2 linked regions of the Homo sapiens genome follow. The protein of the gene in region 2 interacts with the protein of the main gene of each other region in a biochemical or structural test. Each region holds a gene or a part of one and is shown on either strand. Other genes may lie near its edges.

Evidence for each region. The genes of interacting proteins can lie anywhere in the genome.
Region 1: of the proteins of TTBK1 (region 2) and MAPT, one has a biochemical effect on the other in vitro, tested with the Homo sapiens proteins (one study listed by BioGRID).

The regions. Positions count from the first base shown.
Region 1 is NC_000017.11:45,900,925-45,904,580, forward strand, and holds part of MAPT (microtubule-associated protein tau), read left to right. Parts: intron 1-3,656. UniProt on the Homo sapiens protein: Promotes microtubule assembly and stability, and might be involved in the establishment and maintenance of neuronal polarity.
Region 2 is NC_000006.12:43,241,872-43,245,627, forward strand, and holds the start of TTBK1 (tau-tubulin kinase 1), read left to right. Parts: upstream 1-1,609; 5' UTR 1,610-1,837; intron 1,838-3,756. UniProt on the Homo sapiens protein: Serine/threonine kinase which is able to phosphorylate TAU on serine, threonine and tyrosine residues. Induces aggregation of TAU.

The DNA of each region.
Region 1 (3,656 bases), on a different chromosome or scaffold from region 2:
AATGGCATCATCGGCGGTGTCCTGTGGATGAGTGCTTGTGATTGGCTGAATGACCAGAGGGGTCTAAAGATCCTGGTGATGGAATCAGTTGTACAGATAAATTGTTACACTGAGTAGGGATCAAGATAGGAAAAGTCGGCAACTACCCAGCTCCCCTGCACCAAACTGGGCAGAAGTGGATCCTCTGAAAATTGCACACACCCATGTTTAAATGTACACACAGAACTCTTGCCACAGGCAAGCGGAGATTTGTCATCTGCTGTCCCTGCCTCATCTTCTTCCTGAAATCCACTCCATGCCAGGAATAAACTGCATGCTCTCCACCAGCCCAAACTGACCTGCCTTCCCGCCAGCCATCCCGGGCAGGGTGACCTGGCTTAGTACATCGGGTTCAGAGATCTTTCCAGTTTACTCGTTGAATAAAAAGTGAGGGCTGATCGAGAAAGTAATGGCAGTCAGGGAAGGCGAAGGAGGTAAAGAAGAGATTTTACAAATGAAGTAATTCAACAGAGTGCTGACATTGGTAAACTGGCAAACAGATTTCAGGGTGGTTGGTTGAGAGTAGAGTAGAAAAGGATTAAATAAAGCAAACTTGTGGTGTACTGAATCTTAGGAATTCCATGTATCCAATAAGTATAGTCATTTATGAATTAATAAATTCGGCCTAAGAAGCCTTCTTATCGCTTAAATCAAGACTAAGTAACAATATATCAGTTTTAAAAAGTCATTATATCAGAAAATCATTTAAATGATACACATAGATTTCCAAGATTTTACTTTAACCGAAACTATATAAATGTGAATTTGTTCACCCATCTTTTGACACAGGGCTCAGGTCTTCTCTTGGTGTCTGGATCAGCCAGTTGAAATTTCTTGTCTGTTTTGCCTATGCCACATTAATAATGCACTGTCTGGGTCCTCCGATTTCAGTTTGGATTTTGGGTTTACATTGTGGAGTCATCTGAATGCAGAATCCTTCAGGGATTTTACTTTTTTTTTTTTTTTTCATGGTCTTTACCATCCCATTTGATAGTAAATATTACTCACCTTTATGAAGTCTTTCCAAAACATTCAACTAAATTTTCTTAAAATCATTGAATGATTTGAAGAGCTTATTCCTCAGCACTTTTACTCCATCAGCTTGCACCTTATTTTTTAATCTTTTTTTGAGACGGAGTCTCGCTCTATCGCCCAGGCTTAAGTGCAATGGCGCGATCTTGGCTCACTGCGACCTCCACCTCCTGGGTTCAAGCAATTCCGCCTCAGCCTCCGCCGTAGCCGGGACTACAGGTACACACCATAATGCTCGGCTGATTTTTGTATTTTTGTAGGGATGGGGTATCGCCATGTTGGCCAGGCTGGTCCCGAACTTCTGACCCAAGTGATCCACCCACCTCGGCCTCCCAAAGTGCTGGGATTACAGGTGTGAGCCACCGCGCCCGGCCAGCTTGCACCTTATTTAGGATATGTGATTATTATAGCAAGTCTGGTGTACATACAAGATTTTGAATGGGCACAGATGACCTTTAGTAAGTGCTTGGCTGTGATAAGAGGCAGTCCTGACTGCAGATCAGGCTGTGTGGACCCCAGCCTTGCATGTTTACAGACCTTCATGTCTTATTCTTACAGGGTATCAGAAGAACACCTACTGGGGAAACTTATAAATTAGTAAAAGGTGGGCATTCTCCCCGCCCATCTTCTGTCTGTCTGCCAGGACTAGCACAGCACTTTGAAGTCATTCACATAGAATCCCAACTTAAGAGGGTAAAATCCTCCTCAACAGACTGAAAATAAGTTTAAATTCCCTTTGCTATATTAACTCCCCTGAGGAAAGAGTCTTAGATCAATGTCCAACACTAAAAACAGTTTTAAATCAGCAAGTGAGAATTAAATCTGAAGCAATTGATAATAATGTTTCATTCATTCCTCTCCTTTGGCCCCGTCCACCCTACTGCTAAATCCAGGCATCAAAGAGAAGAGGGACATAATTATCTCTAGTCCCAGCTGCTGGTTTTCCTTCCAGCCTATGGCCCAGTTTTCTGTTTTACTGAGAAGGCTGGTGATGTTATCTTGGGATCTAAGTCTGCAGTTTCACCACAAAAAGTCCAGGGATGCACTTTCATGCTTGTGTCCTCCTCCCTGGGATAGCAAGGATATTAGAAGACCCCTGGCTCTGTAATTGCTTGTCATGTGCTCTACAGACGCCACAGAATGCCAAGAACGAAGTGCTGGGAAGGACAAATTCATGGAACCGTGGGACGGTGCTCCTCCCCCAGCGTAAAGGACAGCTCCTCCTCCTGAATTGGAGCCAGCGTTCTAAATCATGTGTCAACAGAGTTGTCCTGGATCGGATCCAGTTCTGCCATTGATTTGCAGGTCATTTCAGTGGTACCTGTTTCCAGTTGTTCTTAATTGAACAGTGGCACCAAACTATTGTCTTGCCTCATCCCCCTCCCATGGCCTGTCCCCCAAAAAGAGACTTCTTGGGTAATTAATCAGGGCAACATCAGGCAGTCTGGGCGCGGTGGCTCACGCCTGTAATCCCAGCACTTTGGGAGGCCGAGGCGGGCAGATCATGAGGTTAGGAGATTGAGACCATCCTGGCTTTGTGAAACCCCGTCTCTACTAAAAATACAAAAAATTAGCCGGGCGTGGTGGCGGGCGCCTGTAGTCCCAGCTACTCGAGAGGCTGAGGCAGGGGAATGGCGTGAACCCGGGAGGTGGAGGTTGCAGTGAGCCGAGATCGCACCACTGCACTCTAGCCTGGGCGACAGAGCTAGACTTCTTCTCAAAAAAAAAAAAAAAAAGGAATCTCTTTGGTTTTATATATATTTTTTTTATATATATAATATATATTAAAATATAATATATATATTTATATAATATAATATATAAATATATTATATATTATATATTTTATATATTATATATTATATATATTATATATTATATATTTATATATTTATATATTATATATATTTATATATTATATATTTATATATATTATATATTTATATATAATATATATTATATATTATATATTATATATTATATATTATATATTTATATATATTATATATTATATATATTATATATTATATATTTATATATTATATATTTATATATATTATATATTATATATTATATATTTATATATTATATATTTATATATTATATATATTTATATATATTATATATTATATATTATATATGTATATATTATATATGTTATATATTATATATATTTATATATATAATATATTGTATATATTATATATCTAATATATTATATATATTATATATATTATATATTATAATATATATTATATATTATATATTATATATATTTTTATATATATAATATGTATAATATATAATATATATAAAAACATATATAATATATATTATATATTATATATATATTATATATATTATATATATTAAATATATTTTATATATATTATATATATATACACATATATATATATAAATGAGGCCAGGCTCGGTGGCTCACACTTGTAATCCCAGCACTGTGGGAGGATCACTTGAAGCCAGGAGTCTGAGACTAGCCTGGGCAACAAAACAAGATCCTGTCTCTACAAAAGGAAACTGTAAAAATTAGCTGGGCATGATGGCATGTGTCTGTAGCCCTAGCT
Region 2 (3,756 bases):
TGAATTCCAGCTCTGCCACTTTCTAGCTGTGTAACCCAATGCATATTACTTAACCTGTCTGTATCTTAGTTTCCTCATCTATAAAACAAGGGATAACAATAGTACTCTTACTTCATAGGGTTGTCATCAGGATTAAAGCAATTAACATATGTAAAGTTAGAGTAGTATCTGGCAGAAGTAAATAACTGCTGCAATTGTTGTTGTTGTTGTTGTTATTATTGAGACAGAGTCTCGCTCTGTCATCCAGGCTGGCATGCAGTAGCATAATCACGGCTCACTGCAGTGTTGACCTCCTGGGCTCAAGAAATCCTCCCCCCTCAGCCTCCCGAGTAGCTGGGACTGCAGGTGCACACCACCACACCCAACTAATTTTTAAATTTTTTGTACAGATGAGGTCTCACTATGTTGCCCAGGCCGGTCTTGAACTCCCGGGCTCAAGCGATCCTGCTGCCTTGGTCCCCCAAAGTGTTGGGATTATAGGCATGAGCCATTGCACTTGGCCCATTGTTGTTGTTATTATTATTCAAGTTGCTCTGATGCATTTGTTGAAGGCATTAAGGAAGGAAAGAACTGGCTGGGCACAATGGCTCATGCCTGTAATCCCAGAAATTTGGGAGGCCAAGGTGGGCAGATGGCTTTGAGCTCAGGAATTCAAGACCAGCGTGGGGAACATGGTGAAACCCCGTCTCTACAAAAAATACAAAAATTAGCCGGGGATAGTGGCTCATGCCTGTAGTCTCAAATATTTGGGAGGCTGAGGCTGGAGACTCGCTTAAGTCCAGGAAGCAGAGGTTGCAATAAACTGAGACTGTGCCACTGCACTCCAGCCTGGGCAGCAGAGTGAGACCCTGTTTCAAAAAAAAAAAAAAAAAAAAAGAAGGAAGAAACTGAAAGAGACAGGCGGCATGCAGAATGTGTTGTTCAAGGAATGTTGGAATGTTGAGTTGTTGAGTAACCCAACATGTCAGAAGGGGAGTAATGGCCTAATGGGTCCATGTTGGGAAGATGTTTTGATGTTACAGTAAAGAGTGTCCATCTTATTTGGTAAGCAGTAAAAACCAATGGCAGAGTTTGTCCACAAATGAAAGAAAGGGCCAAAGAAAGAGAGACACAGATTGAGCCAAAAGATAAAGCATATAGGTGGTGAGGTGAGAATTGCACATGACGGGTGGTGGGTGCGAGTGTGGGATGGTCCCAGAAGTGGTGGGTGATGGGGACGTATGGGAGGATGGGTACAGGAGAGGGGGATGAGTTGAGAGGAAGGCGATATAAACATGTAGAGGATGGAGTGGGGAATCAGGCGAGACTGATGGGTCAGATGAGGAATTTTAGACATGCTAGGAGTGGGGAAGATAAAGGGTGATGGAGACAGGTGAGTTTTATGGGAACAGGTAAGGAGTGATGGGGCTGTGCTGGGAGATGGAGTCAAGCGGGTGGCAGAGAGCTGTAAGGAGAACCTGAGAGCTGGAGCGGGACAGCCAGAGAGTCCCAGGGCTGGAGGAGAGCGGAGCGGGGCCGTCGGAACGTGATGTCAGAGGAGGAGCCGTGATGTCAGAGCGGGCGGCGGGCGGTGATGTCAGGGCTGGTGCTGATGCTGGCGGCGCGGTGCATTGTGGGCAGCTCCCCGCTCTGCCGCTGCCGCCGCCGTCGCCCAAGGAGGATCGGGGCCGGGCCGGGCCGGGATGATCCGGGTCGGAAGGCCGCCGCCGCCGGAGGGAGCGGGTCACCCAACGCCGCACTGAGCCGCCCCCGCCCCGCCCCGGCCCCGGGGGATGCGCCGCCCCGAGCTGCTGCCTCCGCCGCCGCCGCAGCCGCAGCCGCAGCGGGCACAGAGCAGGTGAGGCGGGGCGGGGCGGGCCGGGGTCGGGGCGGGGGCTCCTTCGTGGGCTCAGGGGGCTCCGCCTGGCTCGCCTCCCAGCGCAGCCTTCTTGGGCTCCCCTCCGCGCTGCTGTCGCCGCCCGCTGGGCTGGGACGCTGGCCTACACCGCCTGGGCCGCGCCGAGGCCTGGAGCCGCTCCCTGTCCCCAGCACACAGACCTCCCTCCCCAACCCGTCCTCCGGGCACTTTGCTCCTCCCCACTCACCTCCGTCCCCTGTCCCCATGGCTTCACCCCTGGCTCTCCTGTCATCCCTGACGAATCATTCGGCTGTCTCCGTAACCTCCCTCCCTGTCCTCAGTCCCTCCATGCCTCCCACCTGCCTTCTTACCTACTTCCTCACCCCCTCAACTGTGCCCAGAGATCCCTCCCATGGTCCTATCTCTTCCTTGCCTGTCATCATTATCTCTCACGGGTCTCTATCCTACCCACCCCTCTCCTCTGATCCTGTCGCTCCTCATCCCTGCCATTCCCCTCTGCCTCCCTCCACACCTCTTTCACCTGTTCCCATCACCCCTCGCTAGTCTCCATCACCTCTCCTTACCTGGGCTCCCAGATTCTCACACACACCTGCTGACACCTTGCAGAGTTACACATCAACACTTGTATTCACAGGCCATGATGAGCTCCCACCAGTTCCACGTACCCCTGTGTACCATCACTGGCCCCACATGCTCCTATCTGCACTCTCTGACAGATATTCATACAAACTCCTGCATAAGCCCTCGCCTTCACCATGCGCCCATGTGCACATAGGGGTCTGAGGCGGCAGTAACGGGGCAGCCAAGTGTCCCATGTTTGTATCATCCAACCCAGTCTCAGCTGAGCATAGTCCTCAGACACAGAGAGAAGGAGGGTGGAGAGGGAGAAGCAGGTAACCCTCATTTATCTTCCTGGCTCCACTCTTCCTTCTCTTGCCTCATCTGTTTCTTTTTGGTTTGCTCATCTATAAAATGAGAGCAGGACACAAATTTTCCTTATCAACCTAACAGATCCACTGTCCCAGGACTGGAAAGCCCACCAGAGTTCACCCAGTTTAGCTTCTGAAGGCCCCCTCCCACCAGTTCAATTGCTTCTTCAGTCTTGTCCTCAACCTGTCTCCTCCACCTTTATTCTAGAACCCCCATCCCTACCTCTCCCTTCATCCTGCCACTGCCCTCACTGCCCTTCAAATTCCTGATGCCCCATATCCCACTTTGGCAGAAAGAGGGAAGTCCTGATGCTCTGAAGTTGTAAGGATTGGAGGAAACAGCTCAGCTTAGTCACTTGAAGAAAGAGAAAAGGAGTGGCAGCGTCCCTCCCCATGAAGATCCCTTCTCCATATGTCCACCATGGCCCATCATGAATTAGAAGGTGGTTTCCACACCTCCACGTCCCACCCTGTCCCCTATGGCAGGATGTCTAGATGCAAGAGCCCTGGGAAGTTATTTCATCCCAAGGAAAGGTGGGTTTATGTAGTTTCTACCCCATCTATACATCTCTTTAGCCACCTTCCTCCCCCGACCCGCAACCCCCAAACCCCAGCCTAAGTAACTTCCCTCTTTCTCTATTTGTGACTCTCCAGGGTCGTTGTGAGGGCACGGTAGTGTGCTTCTAAAAAGTGTGAGGGAAAGAGAAGAGGAAAATATCCTGGTTCCAAATCCTGTCCTGGGTTGGCAGAAATCTCAGAAAGTCATGTCTTCTGGCCCCTTGCCTACACACATGCATATCACACACAGACACAAAACACACACAAGAACACACAGATACAGAGATACATGTAGAAAAGCACACAGACACACAGAAAAGATAGACAAAGAAAGACACACAAAGAAACATACACACACAGAAGGATACATGCACAGATACACACACAGACATACACACACGCACACATGGG